Homo sapiens: one gene and its partners. The protein of the gene in region 4 interacts with the protein of the main gene of each other region in a pairwise test. Each region holds a gene or a part of one and is shown on either strand. Other genes may lie near its edges. The genes, in order: LHX6, ZBTB8A, MAPK9 and ZNF138.

Region 1 (7,026 bases), on a different chromosome or scaffold from region 4:
CTATCTGCTCAATAGGAGCGACATTTTCCCCCTTTCTTTTCTAAACAATAACTATATTCAGGCTGCACAGAGCCTGTTAAAGGTGCCAAGGATCAGGGGCGCTATAAGTACCAGGGGTCTGAGCTACCTGCTAATACTTGGTGTAGAGTCAATAAGAAATCTAGATGATCCCTTTGGACTTGGGGCCATGACCTCCAGAGTCCCTGCCAGGACTCTGTCCATACACTCTGTTGACCAAACTTAGATCTGTCTTTGCTGCTTAGAGAAGAGGCTGAGGTGCCCTCTCCTCTTACCCTTGTGGTGGAACTCAGCTTGGGGAAGAAGAGGTTGGGGGTGTGTGCACCTGCACCTCCTGCTGCATGACTGACTGAGAGTCACCACAGCAGTTTGCTCTATGGTAAACTACAGTCATGGAGTTGTGAATTTTCTGAAGCCTTAAGCTGGGAAGCTAATGAAAGTGTTAGAACCAGACCCCAGAAAAATGAGTTTTTCTGTAGAGTTTGCTCTGCGGTTAACTAAAGTCACAGAATACTGAGTTTCCTGGAGGCTTCGAGCTTGGAATCTGATAAAAGCTTTGGAACCAGACCCCAGAAAAATGCAGATGTACATACATTTTCCAAGTAATCTGAAGTTGTATATGGACTCCTTGAACACCCCAGGTGAAGAACTCCCAATTTAATATAACTCCTTTATTCTACAAATGGGAGAACTGTGGCTCAGAAGGGCACAGTGAATTGTCCCGGTTTATATATCAGTTGTAAGTGTCTCTACAATGCCCTTTCCCTGTGACCAAAGAGAATGAAGCCTAAAGAAGAGACCAGCAATGGACTTCTCCGCTGTAGTGATAAACAGGCTGAAGCATGAGAAATTTGGATCCGACCCAAAGGTGGACTTTCCCCAACAGTTTTAGATGTTGGAATATGGTATAGAAATTCATTCAGCACATACTTAAGAGTACCTACTAAATGCCATGCCTCACTCTAGGTGCTGGAAATCCACAAAGATCTAGAATCTAGAAAACATACAAAAAATTCCTGCCCTCGTGGAGCTTTGCATTCTAGTTGGCAAAGACAGATAATATCAAATAAATAATAAAAATATGCAGTAAGTCAGGCTGGGCGTGGTGGCTCACACCTGTAATCCCAGCACTTTGGGAGGCCGAGGTGGGCAGATCACTTGAGGTCAGGAGTTCAGGACCAGCCTGGCCAATATGGTGAAACCCCCTCTATACCAAAAAATACAAAAATTAGCTGGGCATGATGGTACATGCCAGTAGTCCCAGCTACTCAGGAGGCTAAGGTGGGAGAATCACTTGAACCCAGGAGGCAGAGGTTGTACTGAGCAGAGATGATGCCGCTGCCCTCTAGCCTGGGTGACAGAGTGAGACCCTGTCTCAAACAAAAATGCAGTTAAGTCAGATGATAAGTGCTAAGGAAATAAAGCCGGGAGGAAGACAGGGAGGGTAGGAGATAGGTGTTGGTGTTGGTTGCAGTCGTAAAGAGAGAGGTGACATACGAGTACAGAGTCCTCTAAGAGGCATGGGTAAAGTCATGGTGATACCTAAGAGATATGAACTTACTGAGGGAGGGTCTGAATAGATGGGGCACAGCCTTGCTTGCAGGGCCTGAATAGGCAGGGTACAGACTTGCTTGCATGCGCATGAATATGAAAACACATATTTATTTAGGAGTGTTTATCAGTGAGCTAGATGGTTATACCTCACTCTCACGTAGCTCTTTATAAAGAGCATCACAATTGGCCGGGCACGGTGGCTCATGCCTGTAATCCCAGCACTTTGGGAGGCCGAGGCGGGCAGATCATGAGGTCAGGAGATCAAGACCGTCCTGGCTAACACGGTGAAACCCCATGAGGTCAGATCAAGACCATCCTGGCTAACACGGTGAAACCCCGTCTCTGCTAAAATACAAAAAATTAGCTGGGCGTGGTGGTGGGCACCTGTAGTCCCAGCTACTTGGGAGGCTGAGGCAGGAGAATGGCCTGAACCTGGGAGGCAGAGCTTGCAGTGAGCCAAGATCGTGCCACTGCACTCCAGCCTGGGCGACAAGGTGAGACTCCGTCTCAAAAAAAAAAAAAGATCATCACAACCAACCCTACTGAAACCTTGCCCAGGGCTACCCAGGAGGTAAGTGGCAGAGATGAAACTGGTTTCAGGGCTCCAGTCTGTAGAGAGCACGGGGCAGGTGGGATCCTGTGTGCAGCCTGGGGGATGAGCTCCAAGGCATCCTCTCGTCCACAGGTCAGGTACAGTGCGGGCAGGTGCACTGCCGGCTGCCTTACACCGCACCCCCCGTCCACCTCAAAGCCGATATGGATGGGCCGCTCTCCAACCGGGGTGAGAAGGTAAATGGAGCCAGGTTGGGTCTGGTGGGTCAGAGCCACCCTGCTGGGGATGGGTTTCTGGCAGCATCCTCTGTTAACCATTTGGTACCATGCTGCGCTGTGGCAGACCCTGTCTGCCCGGCCTGCTGAGACCCCCACCGCACCCCCACAGCAGTCACTGGAGCGGTGGTTGCTAGTGTGTTCTGTGTGCATGGCCACTCCGAAGGCCTCCTTGCAGCTCCCCACTGGCAGTTTGCCCTGCTCTGTCTTAGATTTGTGAATTTCCTTTACTCAAGCTTTAAGTTCCAGGGAGGGCTTATATCACTCATCACCCCACTTCCCATCATCTCACTGGTTTCTCCTTTTCATTCTTGTCTGTTGGGAGTGAATATCCTGAGCTGATGGGGTTCAGGGATAGCTGGCCAGCCAGTGACCTTGGTCAACTGGCAGGGCCTCCTCTGTGGAGCCAGGATTTCTGGTTGTCTCAGGCTTTAGGACTGCACTTCTAAAAGGGTGCTTAGCTGTCCCCATTCCAGGGCTTCAAGGTATTATTTCTGAAGCAATGCAACCCTTTGTTTAAACTTGTCCATAGTGCAGATGAAGGTGGATGGAGCTGCTCTGAAACCATGGAGAGAGGAGGAGACTTACCTCCCTCCCAGCTCCAAGACACCTCACAGTTAGCCTCGAAAGCCAGTGCTGTCAGACAACCCTTCATTTTAGAAATGGGAACGTTGAGGCCCAGATAGCTCAAAGTCAGAGATTGGATGAGAACCTTGCTTTTTTTTTTTTTTTTTTTTTTTAGACAGAGTTTCACTCTTATCGCCCAGGCTGGAGTGCAATGGCGCAATCTCGGCTCACTGCAACCTCCACCTCCTGGGTTCAGGTGATTCTCCTGCCTCAGCCTCCCGAAGTAGCTGGGATTACAGGCGCCTACCACCATGCCCAGCTAATTTTTTTGTATTTTTAGTAGAGATGGGGTTTCGCCACGTAGGCCAGGCTGGTCTTGAACTGCTGACCTCAGGTGATCCACCCGCCTCAGCCTCCCAAAGTGCTGGGATTACAGGCGTGAGCCACCGTGCCCGGCCGAACCTTACATTTTTTAATTCACTGACTTGTTTATTTGGAGACATTTCCTATGTCTTGTCTGTGCCCAGCATCCATGAATCTGTTGCTAGGAGTGGAAACAAGTAAAGTGTGGTCCCTACCCTTGAGGAGGCCAGAGTCTGGAGGGGGAGGCAGATCCCAACAGTTACAATACAGTGTGACAGGGGAAGCCATGGGAGCTGGGGAGGGGGAAGGGGGCAAAGGAGAGAGGCAGGGAAGACTTCCCAGAAGAGGCAACCTCTAAGGCCAGGCCTGAAAGCTGAGGCATCAGGGAAGGCATGAGACACCAGAGCTCTCAGGGAACCCTGAGCCATTCAGCATTGTTGGCAGGCATGTCTGGGAGGATGAGAGGAGGAAAGCGAGAGCCTTGAGGCTGCCAGGTGGAAGAGTCTGTATTTTATGCTGCGGCAGTGTGGGGTCCTGGAGGGCCTGCTGCAGAAACATCACTGTAGCAGTCTTCAGAGACTGCTGGGTTGGAGGACACCCAGTAGGAAGCAGGGATCCCTGGAGGTCAGTGGGTGTGGCAGTCCCTCGGAGGGAGAGGGTCAGAGCATTAGGGCTGGAGTCAGGAGCCCTCCAGTTCAGCAGATCCCGGTCTTGGTGTGCTCGGAATCACCTGGGCAGCTTGTAAATATACAGAGATTCCTAAGCCTCGCTCTCAGAGAGTCTGTTGGGGTGGGATATAGGGATCTGCGAGTGTAATACTCAGCCTGTGTGATTCTAACGGGCAGCCGGGGTGGGGACAGCTCCTTTAGGATGGTACCTCTGGCTCAGCCTCCTGATTGAGCTCAGTACACCTAGTATGTACTGAGCTCTCTGTGCCGGGCACCACAGGAGAATGTGTATGGTGTGGAGGTACAGACAGCCCTGGACAGATACATTTGTAAATAAATGGTAGTGCCTAACGTAAAATCCTGCAGAATCTGTAGTGAGTGAGCATGCCCCAGGAACACCATCGCCGCTGAGACTGTCACATCCATAGGAAGAGCTGCCGTTTGCTGAGCTCCTTCTGTTCAAGGCAGCTACTTCTCACATGGCATCTGGTTCACACCTCCCAGCCACTTTGTGGACATAGAGATGGCCTTCTCATTGTAAAGAGATAAACAGATTCCGAGAGGTGACATGACTTGTCCAGGGATGCAGCGAGTCTGTCGGACTCTGAAGTCTGCGCGGCTCAGTAATCACTTCCTTTTGTGCAGCACTTCATTGTGTACACAGCCCTCTCTCCGACCTCATCCTTCATAGTCTCCCTGGGAGGGTGATTGCGATGACCTCCATTTCACACTTGCAGAAACGGAGGCTCAGACAGAGCAGTGCTCATCCAGAATCACAATGTGAGCATGGGCAGAACTGGCCGGGATCCTAGAGCCACCTGCCTCAGAGCTGTCCCTTCCTGTGGGAGGGGATTCATCCTATTAGACCTGGCTCTGGGACTGCAGAAGTGAGCTGACATGATCCCTGCCCTCAGGGAGCTTGTGGCTTAGCACAGGGTGTGGGCAGTTACATTGCAGGGGAATGGGCAGCTGGAGTAGGCGAGAAACTTGACCTTAGAGGACCCAGAAGAGGAGGCAGTGAGCTCTAGGGGAGAGACAGGGGACAAGAAGAAGGGTGTTCCACATCAAGAGAACCGCATGTGCAAAGGCCCAGAGGCATGGAGGAGCTTGGGCCGGAGGGGACCCTGGGGGACGTTCAGTGTGGCTGAGGTCCAGGGAAGTGGGGAGAGCCGACAGGGGCCACAGAACAAAGGATCATGGAAAGAGGGTCTTGGACATTATGTGGAGGGCAGGGATGGGCCCTGGAGGTACAGAGGGCTGGGCTCAGTGCTTGGAGAGGAGCCTTTGCCTCCTGGTTGCTCAGCTAAGCTTGTGGTTCTGTCTCATTCAGCCTGGGGGATGAGCCATGCTGGGGGCTGTCAGATTTGGCTATAGACAGTTTCTGGCTTCTGGATTTGGCTGCTGAGCCAGAGTTTTCCCTTGCTGGGCTGTGTCCCCAACTTTGCACCCAGAAAGTCTGCATTAAAGTGTCTCTCCCTCCTTCATGACCTTCTGTCCTCTCACTGTCAGGCCTTTCCGCCAGCTCCTAGGGACTTTTCTTGTCCATAACTCTCAAATTCCTGGGGCTTGGTGGGCGGCAGGGTGTGGTATGTGTGTGGCCAGCACAGGATTGTCTGGGCTTTCTTCCAAGTCCTTCCAGGCCTGAGCCTGCCTAGCTGTGAGGAGACTCAGTGTCCCCATGGGGCTGGCCCCTGAACCCACTCATCTAGACCAGCACTGGCCTGGCCAGGAGAACAGTGCTCTGAGCACTCAGGGGAGCATCCCCTGCCTCCACCGCATCGTCATTTGGCCACACACACCTGTGAGGTTCCAGAGCCACATTTCTTCCTGGTTGTGTCCCCTGATCCCACAAATCCAACACTTGGAAAGTTCTTAGAAATCAGGGCTAAGCTGTCATTGATCAGTGGAGGAGACTGAGACCCATGGAGGGGAAGGGTCCTACCAGGGTCGCCACTCTTGAGAGAGCTTTTCCTAATAAGGGCTAAAAGCCAGGCATTCTGGAGGCCAAAGTGGAGCAGTGGCCAGGGTGGGGAAGGAATGCCCACCCTGGCCACTCTGGAGTTAGGCCAGCTCGGAATCCCAGCTCTGCCACCTCCCCTGTGAGATCTGGGAATGCAATTAGTTTCTCTGAGCTGCGGTTTCTACATCTGCAAACTGGGGATAATAATAGTTCCCACTCCGTAGGGTTGCTGCAGAGAATAAATGCATAATGTGTGTAAGGAGCCCAGCACAGAGCCTGGTGCACAGAAAATGCCCCCAGGTGTTGGTTATGATCATGATCACTATTATGGTGATCATCATCATTGCTTTCCTCCATCACCTCCTTGTGATAACCAGTTCTGGGCAAGTAACATTCCTGATCAGAAAAGGGAACAGCCATGTAGTCATGCCCACCAGATGCCCCTCACACTTTACTGTGAAATGACACATTGCCATTGACCAGCCAGCCAGTGATCCTTGACCTGAACTTCAGGGAACTGGCTGTGTCAGCAGCAGTGAGATGTCAACCAAGTGCTAGAGGTGGGAGTGGGAGGGGGAAAGGGACAGACAGTCCTGATCTCCCACTGTGTATCGGGCACCCAGTGTGTCTGAGCCACGCACTTCTAGGCTTCGTGCATGTGAAGATTAAGCGCATGTGAAGTGCTTAGCCCGTGGCCCTGTGGGTAATAAGCAGTCAGCCACTATGGTCACGGTGACCTTGGAAAGGTAGAGGCAATGTGCTTTGGTAGGGAGAGCTTGCTGTGAGCCAGGCCTGGCCTCCAGTGCCAGGTCCTCCTCCTCGCTGTGTGCCCACGAGCTCACTCGCTTCCACCTCTTTGAGCCTGAGTGCCCTCCTTGTAAAACAGAACGTTGGAACTCCCTCACGGGGCTATGGTGCGGCTTCCGTGAAATCAGGCACAGAAGGTGCAGGGTGAAATGCCCAGAAGGCTTTTGCTGCTGCTGTTGTATCTCATTGAATCTCTCTGATTCTCAGAGAGAGATTTTGTCATCCTTGTTTTAAAGATGAGGAAACAGGCTCAGAGAGGTG
Region 2 (7,236 bases), on a different chromosome or scaffold from region 4:
TTTTGTATTTTTAGTAAAGAAGATGGGGTTTCACCTTCTTGTCCAGGCTGGTCTCGAACTCCTGACCTCGTGATCCACACCCCGCCCCCCCGACCCCCGAGGCCTTGGCCTCCCAAAGTGTTGGAATTATAGGTGTGAGCCACCACACTCGGCTGGGAAGATCAACTCTTTTAAGATATATAGTCATTAATCTAAAATTTAATGTGTCCCACCAGGGTCAGCAAAACTAATCTTGTTAGCCTGCTTAGCAAACGTTCCTGAGTCATAAAGAACTTCAGCTAACTAGAGTGGTAACTGTATTCCTTGATGGATAAATGATCCTTCAGCTTTGGAAGATTTAGAATTAAGTACAGATGCTCTTCAACTGACGATGGGGTTACATTCCAATAAACCTATTTTAAGTTGAAAACATTGTAAGTTTAAAATGCATTTAATACCCCATTAAACGCACTGTAAAGTCAAAAAATCGTAAGTCAAGCCATTGTAAGTCAGTGATCGTCTGTATTAAAAACATTTAAGAGCTATGGTTTGAACATTTGTGTCCCCTCCAAAATTCATGTTGAAACTTCATCCCGATTGCAACGGTATCATCTTTAGGAGGTGATTGGGCCACGAAGACTCTGCCCTCATGGATGGAATTAGTGCCCTTATAAAAGCACCTGAGGGAGTGAGTTTAGCCTCTTCTGCCCTTCCATTCCTTCTGCCACGTGAGGACACAGCAGTCCTCCCATCCAGAGGATGCAGCAACACGGTGCCATCTTGGAAGCAAAGAGCAGCCCTCACTAGACACCAAACTGCCTAAACTTCTCAGCCTCCAGAAGTGTGAGAAATAAATTTGTTCTTTATAATTACCCAGTCCCAAAGTATTTTTATAGCTGCACAAATGGCCTGAGACAGAAAAGATTTAGAATTAATAAAAACACTTAAGAGAATCAAAACTATAGTTGAGGAAAGCCTCATTGAGAAGATGGCATTTGGGTAAAGTCCAAAGGAAGTAAGAGAGTCATGTGGGTGTCTGGGGGAAGAGCATTTCAGGCAAAGGGAACGGCAAGTGCAAAGGCCCTGAGGTGAGCAGGCAAGGAGGCATGGGGGAAGCAATGGGATATGGAGTCAGAAAGGGAAAGCAGATCATGAGAGAAGTAGGACATGGTGAGACCAGGTGCTTGTAAGGCTGCATAGACTATTATGGAGCTTTTGGCTTTTAAACTGCGTAAGATGGGGAGCCACTGACCAATTTTGAGCAGAAAAGTGGCAAAAGCTTCATTCAAGGGAATCAAACACATCAAATCTTTAAATATGATTAACATATCATTGTGTCACTGAGTTAAGTCTATTACACAGTTTTATCTAAAAATTAGATTTAAATGACATACGATGAATTAAATTACTCTATCTTACAAAGTTTTTGATGGCCCCAAATCATTATCAACAGCGAAGCTGGTGATTTCAGGGCTAGGAGATAAGGGTTAGTGGTGTGGCCTCCTTCCTGGAGTCCCTACTCATTATGCCTCCTGCTGACATTTTAGAGCACAATCCACCCAGACACCCATTTGATCAAGGGCCCTAAGCCAGATTCTCACTTCCCAGTTGCCACTTGTGTGGCCAGAGAGGTTCCCAGGAATAAAGACATCTGATCCCTGCTTATCAGTGAGGGGCTCTTGCTCCAGTCTACAAACGCATCCATACCTGAGGCATGGAGGAGATAAGACTGGAGCAGAAGCTTGTTGAGGATTTTGGAGGCTTTCCTGAAAAAGATCAGTTAAGGTTTTTAGAGCAGGGAAGCGCTGTGTTAAGACTGGCCCTTCTAAAGACTCCTCTGGAGGTGCCTTAGGAGGGAAGGCAGGGCGGGAACAGGAGGCCCTGGGCGGCTATGGTCACCCTAGCCTAGAGGTGAAACGCCATGCTTCATACGTGTTCCCTCATCTGCAAAGTGGAATTACCGTCAGCCTGACTAGGTGGTTGTTTTATGTGAAATTAAGTGAAATAATTCATATAGGTGAAAGCACTCCATTTAAAGTTGTGCAACTATAAAGGTTTATCAAGCATAGAGGTGATATTGACGTGTGTGGTTAGAAGCCCACCAGGTGTGTGTGAATCTACCGCTTCCAAACGCGTCTTAGAATGATGTGGAGTAGGGCCATTGGAACAATCGGGGATACATAAGCGCATCTGAAGGGGAAGGGAACAAGCCGCTGACTAACTCACAAAAGAGGCGGTCCGCATGGGTAGAGATGAGCATGTAAGGTTCCGTCCAGAAGCAAATAGTTGGGAGCTCAACATTGGTTAGGCGCGGTGAGTTCGCCCTCGGTTCTAAGCCCAGATGTCGCATCTTGACATAAAACCAAGGATGGAGGCTGCACCGAGAAACTCGGGCTACTGCCCTGGGAGCCAGGTTCCCCGGCAGCGCCCCTGGCCGCGCCCGCAGAGACTCCGGCCCCGGCCCTGCCCTGCCCTCCCCGCGCGCCCCCGCGGCGGCCGCCCGTCTTTGCTCCGCGCAGCCCGAGCCCCTCCAGAGTCCGCGGCGCCCGACGGCTCCAGACACGCCCGGCGCCGTCCCCGCCGCCTTCCCGCCGCCGCCTCCAGGAGGCTCCGCGCGCCTTCCCGCCTTTCCCCGGGCCGGGCCGGGCGGCGAGGCGGGCGCGGGCGGCGACGGCGCGGCCATTGTCCCGCAGCCCCTCCCGGGCGCCTCCCGCCGCGCTCCCGGCCCGGGGACGTCTGGGGGAGGCGCGCCCGGGGCCCGCATCCCAGCACTGCCGCCGCCCGGGCCGTCAGAGCCCGCGGCCAGGCTCGCGGCGGGTCCCGGGCAGCCCCGACGCCCGCCCGCCCTCCGCCGGCGCCGCGTGCAGCCACTTACCGCGGGCCGCGGCGCACCGGCCGGTCGCGCGCGCGGGCCGAGGGAAGATTCCTGGTTCTCGGCTGGGGAAGGACCCCCTTTCGAGGCCGTTCCTTTGCGCCCTAAAACAAGTAGCCCCAACGTGAGAGAAACAAAAGGTATTTGCTGACGTGGGCGTTGGACAGAAACGCCCGAGGGCTGGGGACACAATTAAAGGGGCAACGCACAGATTTCAGGCACCAACCAGCAGCTTCGCCCACTCCCCCTGCCCTTGCCCACACTCGCTGCACGCTCCAGAGACACCGGGGTGCCCAGATTCTCTAGCAGTTGACTGCGGATCATGATTTTAGTCAGGAGCTGAAATTTAAAATTGTACTTTACGTTGGGAAAGGCGCCTCCGGAGGGCAGAAGGGCTGGATTTCTAGGATCTGGGGATTTGGTTTAGGAAAGAGGGAGGGACTTAGGCGTGCCCACAATTACTGTATAAGTACATGTGACATTATTGTACTTAAGTTTAGCAACGTCAAATGCAAAAGATTTCCACAGAATTTTCCCTTGTACTGAAGCAGTTATTTTAGTTGAGGATAACCTTTTCTAAACCTGTACAGGTCAGAAGCATTTCATTTGAATAGGAAAACCCAGAGAGGCTGAGATAAGAGAACATAATTCTTAGTTAAGTCCAGAGAAATATAAAATTAGTAAAAATAGCAAGTTGCGTCTTTTCCAATGCAAGCATTCATCGTACACCAAGCTTCCTCTGACAAATTTACGTCTCTAATATTTAGAGTACAGATATCAGGTTATACATTTGCTAAAATAGTAAATCAATGGATTTTCACTGTTACTGTAGAAGCATTACTTCTATAAATTAGTTTTCTAGTTCCTTATGCTGGGGTCAGGTACTGAAAAGTACTGTGTTATAGTAAAACTGGAGGGAAAAGGTTCAAATTATCAAAACTTGCGTTTAGCTTTTAATGGATTCCTCTCCTGTTCAAAATCATTCATATTGGACAGTTTGTAACTTTGATTTCAGGAATAATTAGCTATGCATTTTGAGGATACAAGATATTCACAATTGTCTCAATGTCACTTCTGTGTCACTGCAGAGGTGCTTTGCTATTTAGTTGCATTTCCTCACCTTCTGAACAGGTAAGTAGAAACATATTTGAAAACCATTAGGTGTCTGGTGTGTTGGATGTACTCAGATTACTCTGCTAGCGCCCCCATTGAGAATTCCCCCAGAAAGACCTGGACATGGTTTTAGCCAAAGGTTTTATTTTAGCCTTAGTTAATTAAAACATGCAAAAGAGTTCCACAAACATATTCCTCAAGAGAGCACATCAGGTTGGTGATAAACTCTTTGTTGAGGCCGGGTGTGGTGGCTCACACCTATAATCTCAGCACTTTGGGAGGCCGAGGTGGGCGGATCACGAGGTCAGGAGGTTGAGACCAGCCTGGCCAACATGGTGAAACCCCATCTCTACTTAAAATACAAAAATTAGCTGGGCATGGTGGTGCGCGCCTGTAATCCCAGCTACTGGGGCAGCTGAACCAGGAGAATGGCTTGAACACAGGAGGTGGAGTTTGCAGTGAGCCAAGATCGTGCCACTGCACTCCAGCCTGGGTGACGGAGCAAGACTCCATTTCAAAAACAAAAACAAAAACAACAAACAAAAATAACCTCTTTGTTGCAAGGAAGAGGTAATGAGAGTTTTGTCCCTCACCTTCATTCTCCTAGCTTTGGGAGCACGTTTCTGTATGCTAGAGCTCCACCATTAACCAGTGCTAGTCTCTTAAACTCTGTCTCCCACCCCACCCAACCCCCATCCCTGTTTCCACCTATTCAGTTCAAATCTTGAGGAAGATAATCCATTCCTTTTTTTTTTTTTTTTTTTTTTTTTTTTTGGAGACGGAGTCTTGCTCTGTCACCCAGGCTGGAGTGCAATGATGCAATCTCGGCTCACTGCAACCTCCGCCTCCCAGGTTCAAGCAATTCTCTGCCTCAGCCTCCAGAGTAGCTGGGATTACAGGTGCCCGCCACCACGCCTGGCTAATTTTTGTATTTTTAGTAGGGACAGGGTTTCACCAGGTTGCCAGGCTGGTCTTGAACTCCTGACTTCGTGATCCAGCCTCATTGGCCTCCCAAAGTGCTGGGATTACAGGCATGAGCTACCGCACCTGGTCCCATTCCAATTTTAACAGTGCCTGCTAAGGGTAAAGTTTTTGCTCTAGGCTCTTGGAATGCAGTGGTGAGCAAAAAATTCACCAAGTCCCTGCTTTTATGGGATTTGCAGTCTAGTGGGGGAGACAGATGGTAATCAAATAAATGTATAATTTGAAAATTGGATAAGTCTGAAGGAAAGGTATGTCGTGTGATGAGAATATTGATGAAGTGGGGACCCGTCTCATGAGGGAGAGGGTTTGTGTAAGGAGGACTTCCTTGAGGAGGTTATCTTGACTGGAAATCTGGAGTAGGAATTAACAGGCAAGCGTGTGAGTGGTCAGGAGCATTCCAGATAGAAGGAGCAAAATGGTGCTTGGTAGATGGGAATATAGCCTGAAAGGCTGATGAGACTGGAGTGCAACGTGAGGGAGAGAGACAAGAGATAAGATGGGAGAGGGAGGCAGGGGTCAGACCATCAGGGCCTTGTCGGGCCAGGTTAAGAACTTTGGGAGCCATTAATGTGTTTTAAGCTGCATGGGGTGTGTGTGCTATGATGAGGTAAGCATTTTGAAAAGATGACTGTGGAAGATAAATTAGAGGGAAGGAAGAGTGGATCACAGTGGCCCAGCTAAGAGATGGTAGAATCTTGAACTAGAGTGGAGGTAGATAGAAGTGGGGAGATCAAGTGAGGTGGAGAGTTAAATATTAGAGATAATAGTTTGACTCTGAGAAATGAGGGAGAAGGAGGAGTCAAAGACAACTCCCAGCCTTTTGGAACTGGACAGATGGTGGTTCTGTTCACTGAGAGAGAGAGGACTAGAAGGGCAGGATTTTTAAAATTTTTAAATTAAAAAAAAATTCCTACTTGAACCCAGGAGGTGGAGGTTGCAGAGAGCTGAGATCATGCCACTGTACTCCGGCCTGGGCAACAGAGTGAGACTCCGTCTGAAAAAAAAAAAAAAAAGAAAAGAAAAAAGAAATTTCATCATCAAAGTCATATAGGTGGGATGGGAATTAAAACCATGGATATGCATAGAGAGAGAATATAAAATGAGAAGCAAAGAAGGCTTAGGACCAAACATTGAGCTACTTCCTCATCTAGTGGGTGGTTAGAGGAAGCTGAAATTGCAAATGAGTGTGAGAAGACTGGAGAGGAAGGAAGAGACCTGGGATAATGTGATGGCATAAAAACTAAAAGAAGAGTCCAGACACAGCGGCTCATACCTGTAATGCCAGCACTTTGGGAGGCTGAGGCAGGAGGTTGGCTTAAGGCCAGGAGTTCCAGACTAGCCTGGGCAACATAATGAGACCCGATCTCTACAAAAAAAATAAAATAAATTAGCTGGGCTTGGTTGTTTGTGCCTGTAGGCTTAGCTACTTAGGAGGCTGAGGTGGGAAGATCGCTTGAGTCCAAGAGCTTTAGGCTGCAGTGAGCCATGATGGCATCACTACTACTCCAGCCTGGGTGACAGAGCGAGAACCCAGCTATAAAAATAAGGAAAAAAGGAAGAATTGGGCAGTAGTGCTAAATATTGCTAAGAGAACAAATCTAAAAGAAAATGTCCATTACATTTAACAAGTTGGAGATCATTGACTTTAGAGAACATGATTAGGCTTAAAAGATGGGGTGGATTTCCAGATTAGAGGAATAAGTGGAGGATGAAGGAATAGAGATGATGAGAACAGACAATTCCTCTCAGAAACTGGTTTATAAAGGGGATGTTCCAGTTATTTTTACTGTGTAATAAACCAAACCAAACTTACTTAGTAGTAGAAAACTGAAGCTATTTTATTATGCTCCTGGATTCTGTGGGTCAGGTCACAGCAGGGGTGGCTTGTTTTTTTTTTTCCTGTTGTCTGGAGCCTTAGCTGGGAAGACTTAAATGACTGGGGGTAACTTGAACTACTGGGAACTGGAATCATCTGCAGGTTTCTTCGCTTAAAGGTTTGGCACCTGGGCTGGGATCACTTGAAGGTTGGCTCAGCTGAGATTTGTCATCTAGAGCACCTACCCATGACCTCTCTGTGGGGCTGGGGCTTCCTGCATCATGGCAGCTGGGTTCTGACAGAGTGTGTCCAAGACAGGTAGGAGGGAGCTGCATGACTTTTTCTGCCTATCTATGGAAGTTGTCCCAGCCTACTAAGATTCAAGCAGAAGGGGGACATAGTTGCTATCTCTAATGGAAAGAATGTCACAGAATTTGGGGTCATGTTTTAGAATTATTACAGGCAAAGAGAG
Region 3 (7,026 bases), on a different chromosome or scaffold from region 4:
TTGCTTGGAAGACTTCTAGTCTATTTATGATATGGATTTAGTTTAATTCAACACGTGGTTTAATAAAGATTTGTCATGTGATATTATATCAACTTTAGAATCAAAATAATTATGAAAAAGTTAACCAAAGAAGAGTTATTATGTTCCTCTTAATAATCACCTGACCTCAAAACGCAGACATCTGCCCAGATGTCATTAGAAACTCATCATCACAGGCTGTTTCCCAGAGACCCATTATGGACAAGGCACTGTGCTGGCAGCTATGGAAGGTACTGTTGTTTCTTAGAACAAATTTTACATTTTCTTCATGGGAGAACTCCCAAATCCAATGTCCAACTCATAAATGGACTGTTATAAAAGTCTGCTTATAAATTGGATTCTTTTTATATAAAACAATGTTTAAACTGATGGCAAAACCACAGGCCATGACATAAACATGTATTTCACTCATGGCATGAAGGAAGCCTGCCACTACGCAGTGATTTCCCTCACAGCTAAAGCTCACTCACACCAGTGCTGACACAGAAACACGCACGTGAGCACCAAACTCAGAGTGGAGCTCCTCCAGCGGGGGAACCAGGAGCTACAATGCCTTTAGGGAAGGATAAACAGACGTGTGATTTTTCAGCAAGTTGCTCAGCCTCTCTGGTTAAGTGGCCTAAACAAGAGGATGTAACCAAAGCCAATGGCACAGAATAGATGCTTAATAAACTATGAGCTCACAGCAGCATTTGCAAAATGGAGACTGGTAGCACCAAAGCGGAAGTTCATTCCCGAGGTACTCTGAGCTGGGGCTCCAGCAGCAAAAGAGCAAGCGACCCAGGTCTCAGACAACACTTGGCCTTTCTGTAACTGGGAGCCCCCAAATGGAGAACTTGCTACCCATATGTAGCCACTCTGGACGGACAGACAAGATCCAAGGAAATATAAGCCTGGCCTCTCTATATAAATCTTTTCAAAACAGATACTCACGGCTTCTGCTTCGGCGGGGTCATACCAAACAGTGATGTATGGGTGACGCAGAGCTTCGTCTACAGAGATCCGCTTGTCAGGATCAATCACTAACATTTTTGATAACAGATCTCTGGCTTGACTTGCTAGGGTGACAACAAATATTAAATTAATGCTGTTAATATGAAACAAACAGAATCATACAATAAAGAACTAAATATGACAACACAGATAGAACAAAGATATATTAATTTTGAGAAATGTTTGATAGGTTCAAGATGAATATAACCCAAAATTTTTTTTTTTTTTTTCGGAGACGGAGTCTCGCTCTGTCGCCCAATGCAGTGGCGCAATCTTGGCTCACTGCAAGTTCCACCTCCCGGGTTCACGCCATTCTCCTACCTCAGCCTCCCAAGCAGCTGGGACTACAGGCGTCTGCCACCATGCCCGGATAATTTTTTGTATTTTTTTAGTAGAGACAGGGTTTCACTGTGTTAGGCAGGATGGTCTCGATCTCTTGACCTCGTGATCCGCCTGCCTCAGCCTCCCAAAGTGCTGGGATTACAGGCGTGAGCCGCCGCACCCAGCCATAACCCAAACATTTTTAAGAAAAAGTCAAATGTCCACTTTCATGACAAACCAGGTTTCCAAATGTAGTTTTACGCCTCTGGATCTGCAAGGGGAAGAGAAACCTGGGCTCCCAGGGTGGTGGGGAAGAGCACCAGGCAGCCTCAGACCAATGTCTGGGCAGGGCCCAAGGCTGGGAAACCACAGCAAGGAAGGTGGCAATTGCCGAGCTGCGGGTGGCACTGCCCAGAGTGTGGGCATGAGGCACGGGGGAGTATTTTTCTCTAAGTCACATCGAAATGAAATTAGAACAGACTTTTCAAACCACACAACAATCTCACATTCCCACAGGATAAAACACTCACAGATGCTTCTGGCTGGCCTAGCTGTATACAGTGCTGGCAACTTACACTTTTTTTTTTAATCTACAGATTGGTATTTAGGAAAAAGAAAAACAAGTTCAATAACTTAGTTAAATATAAGGCTCACCTAGGTTTTGTCAATTAAAGTTCACAACCTGAATAAGCAAAGACTGGGGCTTTTCTGATTAAGGCACAGTTTACCTTCATGCGGACAGAATCAAATCTTTTCTTTTTCCTTAAACAATCACACTGTAGTAAAGGGTGCAGGAGAAGGTGGGGAGGAAGGACCTTTTTCATCGAACAACTGTCACATCGCTTCTGACTCTAGAATCTGCATTAAGTGTTCTTCTTACCTGAAAACTTTTTGAATTCCAGTTGCTGTAACTGTAACATAAGATTCTTTCAGACTGATTTGATTATTTTTATTTTGGCCAAAGGCTTCAATTAAGCCGTCTTATAGAGGATAAAGCTTCTAGACCTTTAAGCTTTCTCTCCTCAGTGCCTTCGTACCTCAGACTTCAGGCCTAAAATGACTTTCTCTCCCAAAACACAGGTTTTTAGAATACAAACATGAAAGAGTGAAAGCACCACCTGAATTACAAAACACAAGTATAAGAAAAAAAGGATATCTTACTTTTTATTTTGTCTCGCTCAGATTCTGATGGGAATATCCAATCTGGAAAGAGTTCTTCAAATTTGATTCCAGGATACTTTGGTCTGTTTTCGACATAATTCCTCACAGTTGGCTGAAGTTTCTTCATGAACTCTGCTGATGGTGTTCCCAGCTGCTCAATAACTTTATTCCACTGATCAATATCTAAGGAGTTTCTTGAGGAAAATACAACTGAAGTACCTTGTATTCACAGTACATGCGGCAGCATCACTTGAATAATATTTAAACCTATCGACTAGGCCACCCCACTGGATCAGCAGCGGAATTTTGAAATAATATTCAAATAAGGTTTGGGTTTCCAAGTTACACTATTTTTTAAAACTCTCACACTCTGCATCTTCATAAACTATGATCACAGTTTATTAAATCAACACAATGAAGTCTACACACCTTCCCACTCTAGTTCAAAATAAAGTTTATCTTATAACTAAGAATACCTATAGCAAAAATGATTAAACACGAAATTAGATAAACATTACATAAGCAAATTGAAATCAGTTTTCATACTAATGCTACCTTAGATTCATTCACAGCTCTCTAAAGAACAGAGGATCTCAAGGGACCTGTGGAGAGACCTATCTGACCTCCTCAGTTTACAGCTGGGAACCAAGCAACTGGGCTTAGACTGAGCCCAGCGACAGCTTTCAAATGATGCTCTATTTTACTTGGAACTGACTCTTCCCAACCATCACTGCGATCCCTAGGTAATGCATTTTATTTCCTTTCAAAGTGCGTGACCTGGGTTTCAGACTCAACTCTGCATTAAACACTCAGTGTGTCAGGAAAGTCAGGCTTCCTTGGGGTCTGTTTCCTTATTTGTTCAATGCAGACATTACCAGCTTTGCCTATTCCACAGGGTGCTTGTTAGGCTTGGGATAATTAGGATTACATGTGGGAAAGTGACACTGAAACTGTACTCGCTATACAAGAGAATGCAAGTGAGAAAAAAATAGCATCAACAGCAGCTTAAAAAAGTGCTCACTGAGGCATGTCTTAGAAAAATGAACTTACATCACCATGAAATAACCTAGGGAACTGGTACATGAACTCAGTTCTTCCAAAATGTTATACTTCCAAAAGACCCGCTCAGGAAATGTGTTTCTGGCATTCAATTCACTAGCAAATTCTCCTTCCTACTCCTGGTTCATACATATTGTCAAATCAGAATTATGCCCACATTTTATTTACCTATTTAGCCAAAATGTGAAAACTGTCTCACACCTTTTCCTTCTGCCATATATACATATATAAATAAAGACAGAGTCTCGCTCTGTCGCCCAGGCTGGAGTGCAGTGGCATGATCTCGGCTGACTGCAACCTCCACCTCCCGGGCTCAAGTAATTCTCGTGCCTCAGCCTCCCAAGTAGCTGGGACTACAGGCACCTGCCATAACGGTCGGCTAATTTTTGTTATTTTTAGTAGAGATGGGGTTTCGCCATGTTGGCCAGGCTGGTCTGGAATTCCTGGCCTCAAGTGATCTGCCTGCCTCGGCCTCCCAAAGTGCTGGGATTATAGGTGTGAGCCACTGCGCCCAGCCCACCTTATACTTTTGATACCTCTTCTGCCTGCTCACTCCCACAGACTTCCCAGGATGCACCCACCCAGCATCTGTGTGCCATTTGCCACACAGCAACCATCTGGGCTCCCGGCTACACTAAGCCTGCTCAGCTCTAGACCCTAACCCCCCTGACTCAAGGACAAGCTCCCTCAACTCTTCCTTCTCCAACATCATCGACATTTTGCACTCTACCAATACATTCCACCACGTTGGTAAATGATGGTGTTTTCTCCTATGTTAACACAGTAGCTGCTTTCCTTTGGCCCTACCTATCGCTTTATTTCTTATTCCTATTTGCAGCAAAAACTTCCATAAAGAGCTGTCGGTCGGGCTCAGTGGCTCACACCTGTAATCCCGGCACTTTGGGAGGCCGAGGCAGGTGGATCACAAGGTCAGGTGTTCAAGACCAGCCTGGCCAAGACGGTGAAACCCTGGCCCTACTAAAAATACAAAAATTAGCCAGGCGTGGTGGCGGGCGCCTGTAATCCCAGCTACTCGGGAGGCTGAGGCAGAAGAATCGCTTGAACCCAGGAGGTAGAGGTTGCAGTGAGCTGAGATCGCATCGCTGCCCTCCAGCCTGGGCAATGGAGTGAGACTCTGTCTCAAAGGAAAAAAAAAAAAAAAAAAGGAAAGAAAAAAGAGCTGTCTACACTTGTGTCTCTAATTCCCAGCCTCTCATTTTCTCTCAAACATACTCCCATCAGGCTTTCTTCCCTCCACTCCATAAATGCTGTGCCCATCATGGCTGCCAGCAGCCATCACAAGGCCCAGGGGCCAATCCCCCGTCCTCATCTCCTCATGTGAATGAGCCTCCCTCAGTCACCACACTCTAGGAGGAGGGGTCACGTGAGTGCCTTCTCCATTTCCTTCCCTATTCCCTTTGTCCCTCCACCTCAAGGGGGCTAAGTCCCGGGTCCTGGTCTCTTCCTCCCCTGCAAGTGCTCGCTACCAGTCCTAGGCTTCAAGGCTACCGACAGACGGATGACACCCACTTTGATCTCTCTATCCCAGACCTTGCCCCTAAATTCCACTGTCTAACAGACATCTCCAAACCCTAGCAAGGCTCCTTGAAGGGTCCAGCTTCAAAGCAGAGTACAAGCCCATCTCCCCGGCCACACCCCTACCCGCCTGCTGGGGGCCTCCACCTCTCCTCTGGATGATGGCAGCCTCTGCTCTGTTCTCCTGCTCTGCCCTGCCCTTGACGATCCACCCTCAATTCAGCAGCTGGGAGGAGCCTCTTTGCATCTCAGTCAGACTAGGCACCCAGAAATGGGCAGGTGAGAGAAATATCTGCTGGGTTAATGATAAAGGACTAGAAATTAAACCAGTTGTGAGAGGAGACCCACAGATTCCCCGAGAGGACTCCACCCCAGCATCCTACAGGTGGGAGGGATGGGGGACAGATGAGAGGGACGGGGGAAGGGGAACAATAATTCCGACAAGCCCAGTGGACCCTGTTGTCTAACTCTCGTGAAGCTGCAGGCAGACCACAGGTCTATTTTACAGAAGGGGAAACCAAGGCTCAGAGAGGCCCTAAATTTCTCAAGGATGCATGGCTGCCAAGGGGAGGAGTCTGAGCTGGGGCCCGAGGTGGCCGGGCTAAAGCTTTCTCTTTCTCATAGACCACCGCAGGGACAGGAGTTCCTTTTCTACCCTGGGTCGCAAATTAAAGCAAATCTCTGAGACCCTCAGTCTGATTTCTGCAACTTTTTTCTATCTCCCAAATTTCAATCTAATATTTGAAAGAGTTGGCAAAATTTTCTTTAGAAAATGATGTTAAACTCTGTGTGGCTTTTGGGAATAACATTAGGTAACCTTATATATAACACTATTAATTACTGACATTAATGTTCATATGTATAGCAGGAATTTTAATTTTACTTACTAAAATGCACCAAAAAGTACTCACATTTTTCATTTTTGTACTTTTTGAAGAAAACATTTTGTAATAAAACAAGGAATGGCACAAAATGAGTAAGAATTGAGACAAACTGAACATTAAGTAGATATTTCTAAATTATTAGTCTTTTAATTTTTCAACTTTTCCCTTTTTAATTAAGTTTACTTGCAAAATAAAGACGTCCTTATTTATAGGTTGCAACAAGTGAATCTGAGATGAGGCTATGGAAACTGCTAGAAAATTTAGTAGAACAAATAAAATAACTTGACATATTATATAATCTATGATATAGAAAATGTAAAGAAAGGTAAATAAAATGAGAGAAATAAAAATATTTTCACTTTAAGTTTGCACTGTGAAGAATTTATAAGGAGACCACTTTGATAAAATTATTAAAATCTGAAATTATTTTCCTAAGATACATACAAAACACTGACTATGGAGCTTGATTTCCTTAAAAGCAACCATCAATCTGCCCAAGGATGGAGACCAATTTAAACTTTCATAACGAAAACAAAGTCAAAGACTAATGAAAAACTAAGTGGTTAAAACACAAATGAAAAAGGGAAGATGTGAAGAACCATGTTAGGGTAAAAAATACTGAGGATGGAAGAATGGCAAATGAGGAAAGAAGGCTATTGTAACAATTAGAGTAGTTATTCTCCTTTCTGCTGTATCTCTAACATGACTTGCTGACTACAGTATGAGTTTATCTCTTTCATTTTACATTTATTTTGACTTCCCCAGTGTGTCACAAAATAACCCACTAGACAGATTTTTAAAAAAAATTCTACAAAATGTCAGCACAGTAACAAACAAGAAAGTTTAACATATTGTTCCTCACAAAATTTTCATTTTAATCTCTTTCACTTAGGTCCTTTGTAATGTGCTTCAGTTCTTACTTTGGGGGAAAATATTTCAATGCATACCAGTAACTAACAAAATAGTACTTAATTAAAGCACACAAGCACACTAGCCTATTAAATTTAGATAGCATCTTTCCTAGTTAAATTAA
Region 4 (7,026 bases):
AACTCCAAACAACTGAGCTCCCCGAGTAAGCAATTCCTGTCCCTTTTAAGGGCTCACAACTCCAAGGGGGTCCACATGAGAAGGCTGTGATCAATTGAGCAAGCAGGGGGTACATGACTGGGGGCTGCATGCACCGGTAATTAGAACGGAACAGAACAGGACAGGGATTTTCACAGTGCTTTTCTATACAATGTCTGTGATCTATAGATAACATAGCCAATTAGGTCAGGGGTCAATCTTTAACTACCAGGCCCACGGTGTGGCGCCGGGCTGTCTGCCTGTGGATTTCATTTCTGCCTTTTAGTTTTTACTTCTTTCTTTGGAGGCAGAAATTGGGCATGAGACAGTATGAGGGGTGGTCTCCTCCCTTATCCCCACCAGAACTTTTTAATGAAGAATTGGAATATGACTTTGTTAATATAGTGGAATATATTTGAGCTTGCATCATGGGTAAGTGAAGAGCTATTACGGTTTTTGGGTGGCCACATCACCCTTGTTTATTTTTCCTGTAACAGCAGCATTCCAATTTAGTGAAACGAAAGACACTGAAGTTATGCTTACCTATAATTATCTCTATTGGATAAATTAGTAACCATGTTATACTAATATCTACTGTAATAATTTGATAGTAACTTTTTTGATTAGATACACTTAGTATAATTTTAATGTACTATTTATAATGTACATAGGATTTTTAAAAATTGTCTGTAACCATAATCCAATTAAAACACTTTATATTCCAAATGTATGAATATAAAAATATTGAAATTACTAAGGGATTCATTCAAAGCAAATATTGTGGTGTTATATTCACACTACTGTATAAAATACTGCTTAATTTATATGAATGCAGTTTGTCTACAAACACTACACATAACTATGCTAATTGTTCTGAAGTAATAAGCAGAAACCAAAGCACAACCACAGACTCCACTGTTCAGTTCATACACTGAACCTCGCTTTTGCAATGTAAGTACTTCAGCCTGCAAATATTAAATAATTACCTTGGATAATCTGTTTTCTGTCAAAGGAGCTTACTTGGTATCTTTTAGTCTTCATCATTCTGTATTGCTAAATGTAATCCTATCTTTGTGCTCAACTTTTGTGTGCTCTTAAAATGAGCTTTAATCTAAACAAATCTGTGTCTACCTTAAAAGATACAGATTAAATGAAAAAAAAAAAAAAAAAACCTTTGCCAAAGCAAAAACAAAGCAATGAATCTGAGGTCCTAGATAAAGACAATCCTGAGTCAAAAACAATGACAAAAGATTTAGCTGTTAATATGATTTACATATCTTTCAAACAACAAAGAAAAAAATCTACATATAATTTAAGTGCTTTAAAGAAAAATAAATTAACAAAATATCCTCCCTTATTTTCATGCAGGAGAATAAACCCTCTTATTTCTAATTTATATTTTCTCCTACAGTGAGATATTGAGAAGTACACAATTGTTATGTAAGAGGGGGGTAGGGAAAAATAGTCACTCATGCCATTGTCTGGCTCAGTGAATCTGCATTTTTTTTTTTTAACATAAGACAAGACAAAACGAGGCAGGGGAACAATCAGATATGCATTTGTGTCTGTTGGGCAGGGGGGTGACTGTATCTGTAAAGATAAGCTATCAGTTTACATTTTAACAGAAACACCTTAGGGTAAAGATCTTGCGGCTCACTAGAAATTTTCTTGTGGGCAAAAGATGGGGGAGGTATGTAGCTTTTCTTCTTGTAGCCATCTTATTTAGGAACTGAGGACTAAGCTCTGAATTTTTTATCTTGCCCAAATTTCTATCTAATTGTTTGTAAGGGGTCATGCCCTACAAACCATAAATTCTCATCAGATGGGTTTTATTTGACCCTATAGATCGTGACTTACTTTCCAATCTGACTCTGGCGTAACATTATGAGACAAGAAAAAAAAAATCAAAATATTTAACACCAAAATATATTTTCTTGCCATGCCTTGAAATTGCCCTGCAAAAGTCTCTTGTGGGAAAAATGTACATTCTATAGACAATCCCCTTTCCTCTTTTGTTTTCCTTCCTTACATTCCAGATCCAGGAGATAATCAATCAACTAAGAGCCAGGCACCTTTTTAAGTCCAGTAAGAAGAAACATTTTTACAACCTGCTGTCTCTGAAGTCTGCTATCTGAGATTCCTCTCCACAATAAAACTTGGTCTCCACAATCCTTTATCTTAACCTGAACATTTTCTTTCTATTGATCCGAGGTCTTCAGATATACTCAACCAACTGTCAACCGGAAAATGTGTAAATTTGCCTATAGCCCGGAAGCCGCCACTTTGAGTTGTTCTGCCTTTCGGACAAATCCATGTATTTCTTAAATGTATTTCATTGATGTCTCATGTCTCCCTAAAATATATAAAACCAAGCTGTAACCCGACCACCTTGGCCTGATCACAGGACCTCCCGAGGGCTGTGTCACAGGCCATGGTCACTCATATTTGGCTCAGAATAAATCTCTTAAAATATTTTACAGAGTTTGACTCTTCGTCAACAGAGCCAAAAGAGGAAGGCAGGTTTGTGTGACCCCGTTCCCAGCTTAACTTTTCTGTTTGGCTTAATGAGTTTTGGGTCCCAAGATTTAATTTCCTTTCACAGGTGCACATGAATAAGGCAAGTTCTTAGAGATTTATGAAGAGACTTAGATTCTGATACAATAGTGGGAGACTACAACACCCCACAGACACTATTAGACACATTATTGAGGCAGCAAATTAAAAAAGAACTAAACTCAATACTTAACCAAATAGCCCTACTAGAAATCTACAGAACTCTCCATCTAAAAACAACATAATATATATTCTTCTCAGCACCATGTGGCACATACTCTAAAATTGACCACGCAATCCAAAATAAAACAATCCTCAGCAATTTCAAACATCCCAAAATTATACCAACCACATACTCAGACCACAGATTGATTAAAATATAATTCAATACAAGGAAAACCACTTGAAACCATACAAGTACATGGAAATTAAACAACCTGTACCTGAATAACTTTTGGGTATATAATAATATTAAGGCAAAATCAAAAAGCTCTTTGAAACAAATGAGAACAAAGTACAGCATATCAGAATCTCTGCAACACAGCTAATGCAGTGCTAACAGAAAAATTTATAGCACTAAATGCCCCCATAAAAAAGTTAAAAAGATCTCAATTTAACAACCTAACATTATGAATAAAATAAGGAGAGAAGCAAGGGGAAACAAACCCCTAAGCTAGCAGAAGGCAAAAAATAACAAGAGCTGTACTGAAGGAGATTTAGACATAAAAAACTATGCAACAGATCAAGAAATCCAGGAGTTAAATCTATTAAAAAAATTAATAAGCTAAATAACCCACTAGCAAGATTAATGAAGATTCAAATAAATACAATTAGAAATGACAAAAGGGACATTACCACTGACCCCAGAAAAATACAAATAACTATTGAAGTCTACTATGAACACTTCCATGCACACAAACTAGAAAATCTAAAAGAAATAGTACATTCCTGAAAAATACATCCTCCCAGGACTGAACAAAAAAGAAATTGAATCTCTGAATAGAACAATAACAAACTACAGAACTGAATTAGTAATAAATAGCCTAGCAACCAAAAAAAGCCCAGGACCAGAGACATCCACAGCTAAATTCTACAAGATGTATAAAAAAAAGAGCTGGTACCATTCTTTCTAAAACTATTCCAAAAAATTGAGAAGACACTCCCTCCTTCAACTCATTAGGTAAGAACAGCATCATTCAGACACCAAAACCTGACACAGATATAAAAAGAAAACTTTATGCAAATATCCTTGAGGACCATTGATATGCAAAAATCTTCAATAAAATACTGGCAAATTAAATTCAGCAGCACACCAAAAAGTTAATCAGTTATGATCAAGTAGGCTTTTTCTCTGGGATATGAGGTTGGTTCAACATACACAAATTAATAAATGTGATTCGTTACATTAACAAAAATAAAGATAAAAACTGCAAGATTATCTTAATAGATGCAGGAGCTTTCAAAAAAATTTTAACATCTTTCATGTTAAAAACCTTCAACAAACTAGGCATTGAAGGTACATATTTCAAAATAACAAGTTATCCAAGACAAACCCACAACCAACGTACTGAATGGACAAACTGGAAGCATTTCTCCATGAAAACTGGCACAAGACAAGGATGCCTTCTCTCACCACTCCTATTCAACACAGAATTGGTAGTCCACACCACAGTTAATCAGGCAAGAGACTAAAATAAAAGGTATTCAATAGAAGAGAAAAAGTCAAACTATCCCTGTTCACAGACAACATAATTCTATATCTAGAGAACCCACAGAAAAGTTCTTCTCTTTTCTGTCTCCACAGAAACGTTCTTTAAACTGAAGAAGTGAAGCAAAATTTCAGAATACAAAATAAATGTACAAAAATTAGTAGGATCCCTGTACATCAGCAGCATCCAAGCCAAAAGCCAAATCAAAAACATAATCCCAGGCTGGGCCTGGTGGCTCACACCTGAAATCCCAGCACTTTGGGAGGCCGAGGTGGGTGGATCGCCTAACACCTGAGGTCAGGAGTTCAAGACCAGCCTGACTAACATGGTGAAACCCCGTCTCTCCTAAACAAAAAATTAGCCAGGCGTGGTGGCACAGGCCTGTAATCCCAGCTACTTGGCAGGCTAAGGCAGGAGAATCGTTTGAACCCGGGAGGTCGAGGTTGCAGTGAGCCAAGATTGCACCATTGCACTCCAGCCTGGGCAACAAGAGCGAAACTCCATCTCAAAAAACAAATAAACAAACAAAAATAAAAACACAATCCCATTCACAATTGCCACAAAAATAATAAAACATCCAGGAATACAGCTGATCAGGCAAGTGAAAGATCTCTACAAGAATTACAAAACACTGCTTAAATAAGTCAGATATGACACAAATATATTGAAAATTACTTTATGCTCATGGATAGAAAAGATCAACATCAGCTGGGTGGCATGACTCAGCCTGTAATCCCAGCACTTTGGGAGGCAGAGGCGGGCAGATCACCTGAGGTTGGGAATTCAAGACCAGCCTGAACATGGAGAAACCCCGTCTTTACTAAAAATATAAAATCAGCTGGGCGTGGTGGCGCATGTCTGTAATCCCAGCTACTCAGGAGGCTGCGGCAGGAGAAATCACTTGAATCCAGAGGCAGAGGTTGCGGTGAGCCGAGATCGTGCCATTGCACTCCAGCCTGGGCAACAAGAGCAAAACTCTATCTCAAAAAAAAAAGAAAAGAAAAGATCAATATCATTAAAATGGCCATACTGCCCTAAGAAATTTACAGATCTAATGTCATTCTTATCAAGCTACCAAAAACATTCTTAACAGAACTAAAAAAACTATTTTAAAATTCATATGAAACCAACAAAGAGCCTGAATAGCCAAGGCAATTCTAAGCAAAAAGAACAAAGCTGGGCATTACATTATCCAACTTGAAACTATTCTATAAGGCTGTAACCAAAGCAGCATGGTAGTGATTAAAAAAAAAAAAAAAAGGCTCATAGAACAATGCAACAGAATAGAGCCAAGAAATAATGCCACACATCTACAACCATCTGACCATCTGATCATCAAAAAAGCTGACAAGATCAATGTAGGAAGAATTTCCTTTTTTTTTTTTTTTTGAGTCGGAGTTTCACTCTTGTTGCCCAGGCTGGAGTGCAATGGCTCAATCTCGGCTCACCACAACCTCCGCCTCCAGGTTCAAGCGTTTCTCCTGTCTCAGCCTCCTGAGTAGCTGGGATTACAGGCATGGGCCACCATGTCCGACTATTTTTTTTGTAGGGTTTCTCCATGTTGGTCAGGCTGGTCTCAAACTCCCGACCTCAGGTGATCCACCCGCCTTGGCCTCCCAAAGAGCTGGGATTACAGGCGTAAGCCACCATGCCCGGCCAGAATTCCCTATTTAATAAAATGGTACTGGAATAACTAGCTAGCACTATGTATAAGATTTTCTTTTTTGTATTTAAAAAAATAGCCGAATTTTTCTTCAGCGGTCAAATAAAATACTTCTTAATCAAAATATAGTTAAGTTTATCTCCTTCCCACAGCTCCTGAACTTTGAGCTACTCAGTCTGAGCCAACATACAACCCCATTTTATGTTTCTCCTAAAAACTTGCTGACTTCAGGGTAAAACATTTTCTAATCTAAAATCTGATTTGGGCTGAGCGTGGTGGCTCACGCCTGTAATCCCAGCACTTTGAGAGGCTGAGAAGAGCAGATCACCTGAGGTCAGGAGTTTGAGACCACCCTGGCCAATATGGCAAAACCCCATTTCTAGTAAAAATACAAAAATTAGCCCGGCATGGTGGTGGGCGGCTGTAATCCCAGCTTCTCAGGAGGCTGTGGCATGACAGTCACTTGAACCCAGGAGGCAGAGGTTGCAGTGAGGTGATATCCAGCCACTGCACTCCAGCCTGGGCAACAAAGTAAGACTCTGTCTCAAAAAAATAATTTAATTAAAAAATAAAAAATAAAATCTGATTTATACACCCTCCATTTGCCATTCCCCTCTCACCTTCTAATCTTTTTTGCTCCTCCCTAAGAAAGCCTTTATCTGCCTAAACTTTGCAATCCTTAAAGATTATATAGTTGGTACTTCCTTCTGTTGCAGTATTTTAGAATTTTTTAAAAAATAAACCTAATTTTGTTTTATTTTACAAAGTCTAGAAACTGCCTCAAAACAATAACAACTTCATCCTGAGTATGACCCTCCCAATCCCCTTCCATCTTAATGTTTACTGCATCTGCCTGTGGGTCTCCAGTTTTCCAGGGCTCTGTAGCTTCTCTCAGTATAAAGGTTCTTCCATGGCTGGGGTGAGCAGGCTCCGACATCCGCAGGGGAGGCTTCCTAGAAAGAACTAACTGGGCCTTTAATAACCTCCCTTCCCTTTGTAGGCTCAATATTAGCCTTAGCTTGCAGTCACTGGCGCAAGCTTTAATTTCCATGTCGGAGTTGTTCAAATGGTTTTTTAAACTGA

The links.
Region 1: the proteins of ZNF138 (region 4) and LHX6 interact in binary tests that used the Homo sapiens proteins (3 or more experiments, as listed by UniProt).
Region 2: the proteins of ZNF138 (region 4) and ZBTB8A interact in binary tests that used the Homo sapiens proteins (3 or more experiments, as listed by UniProt).
Region 3: the proteins of ZNF138 (region 4) and MAPK9 interact in binary tests that used the Homo sapiens proteins (3 or more experiments, as listed by UniProt).

What each region holds. Positions count from the first base shown.
Region 1 is NC_000009.12:122,204,949-122,211,974, reverse strand, and holds part of LHX6 (LIM/homeobox protein Lhx6), read left to right. Parts: exon of another isoform or gene 1-1,114; intron 1,115-2,257; coding exon 2,258-2,361; intron 2,362-7,026. UniProt on the Homo sapiens protein: Probable transcription factor required for the expression of a subset of genes involved in interneurons migration and development.
Region 2 is NC_000001.11:32,535,191-32,542,426, reverse strand, and holds the start of ZBTB8A (zinc finger and BTB domain-containing protein 8A), read right to left. Parts: upstream 3,001-7,236; 5' UTR 2,855-3,000; intron 852-2,854; exon of another isoform or gene 598-851; intron 1-597. UniProt on the Homo sapiens protein: May be involved in transcriptional regulation.
Region 3 is NC_000005.10:180,240,059-180,247,084, forward strand, and holds part of MAPK9 (mitogen-activated protein kinase 9), read right to left. Parts: exon of another isoform or gene 5,962-7,026; intron 2,698-5,961; coding exon 2,515-2,697; intron 1,098-2,514; coding exon 973-1,097; intron 1-972. UniProt on the Homo sapiens protein: Serine/threonine-protein kinase involved in various processes such as cell proliferation, differentiation, migration, transformation and programmed cell death.
Region 4 is NC_000007.14:64,797,422-64,804,447, reverse strand, and holds part of ZNF138 (zinc finger protein 138), read right to left. Parts: intron 5,258-7,026; coding exon of another isoform or gene 5,050-5,257; intron 1-5,049. UniProt on the Homo sapiens protein: May be involved in transcriptional regulation as a repressor.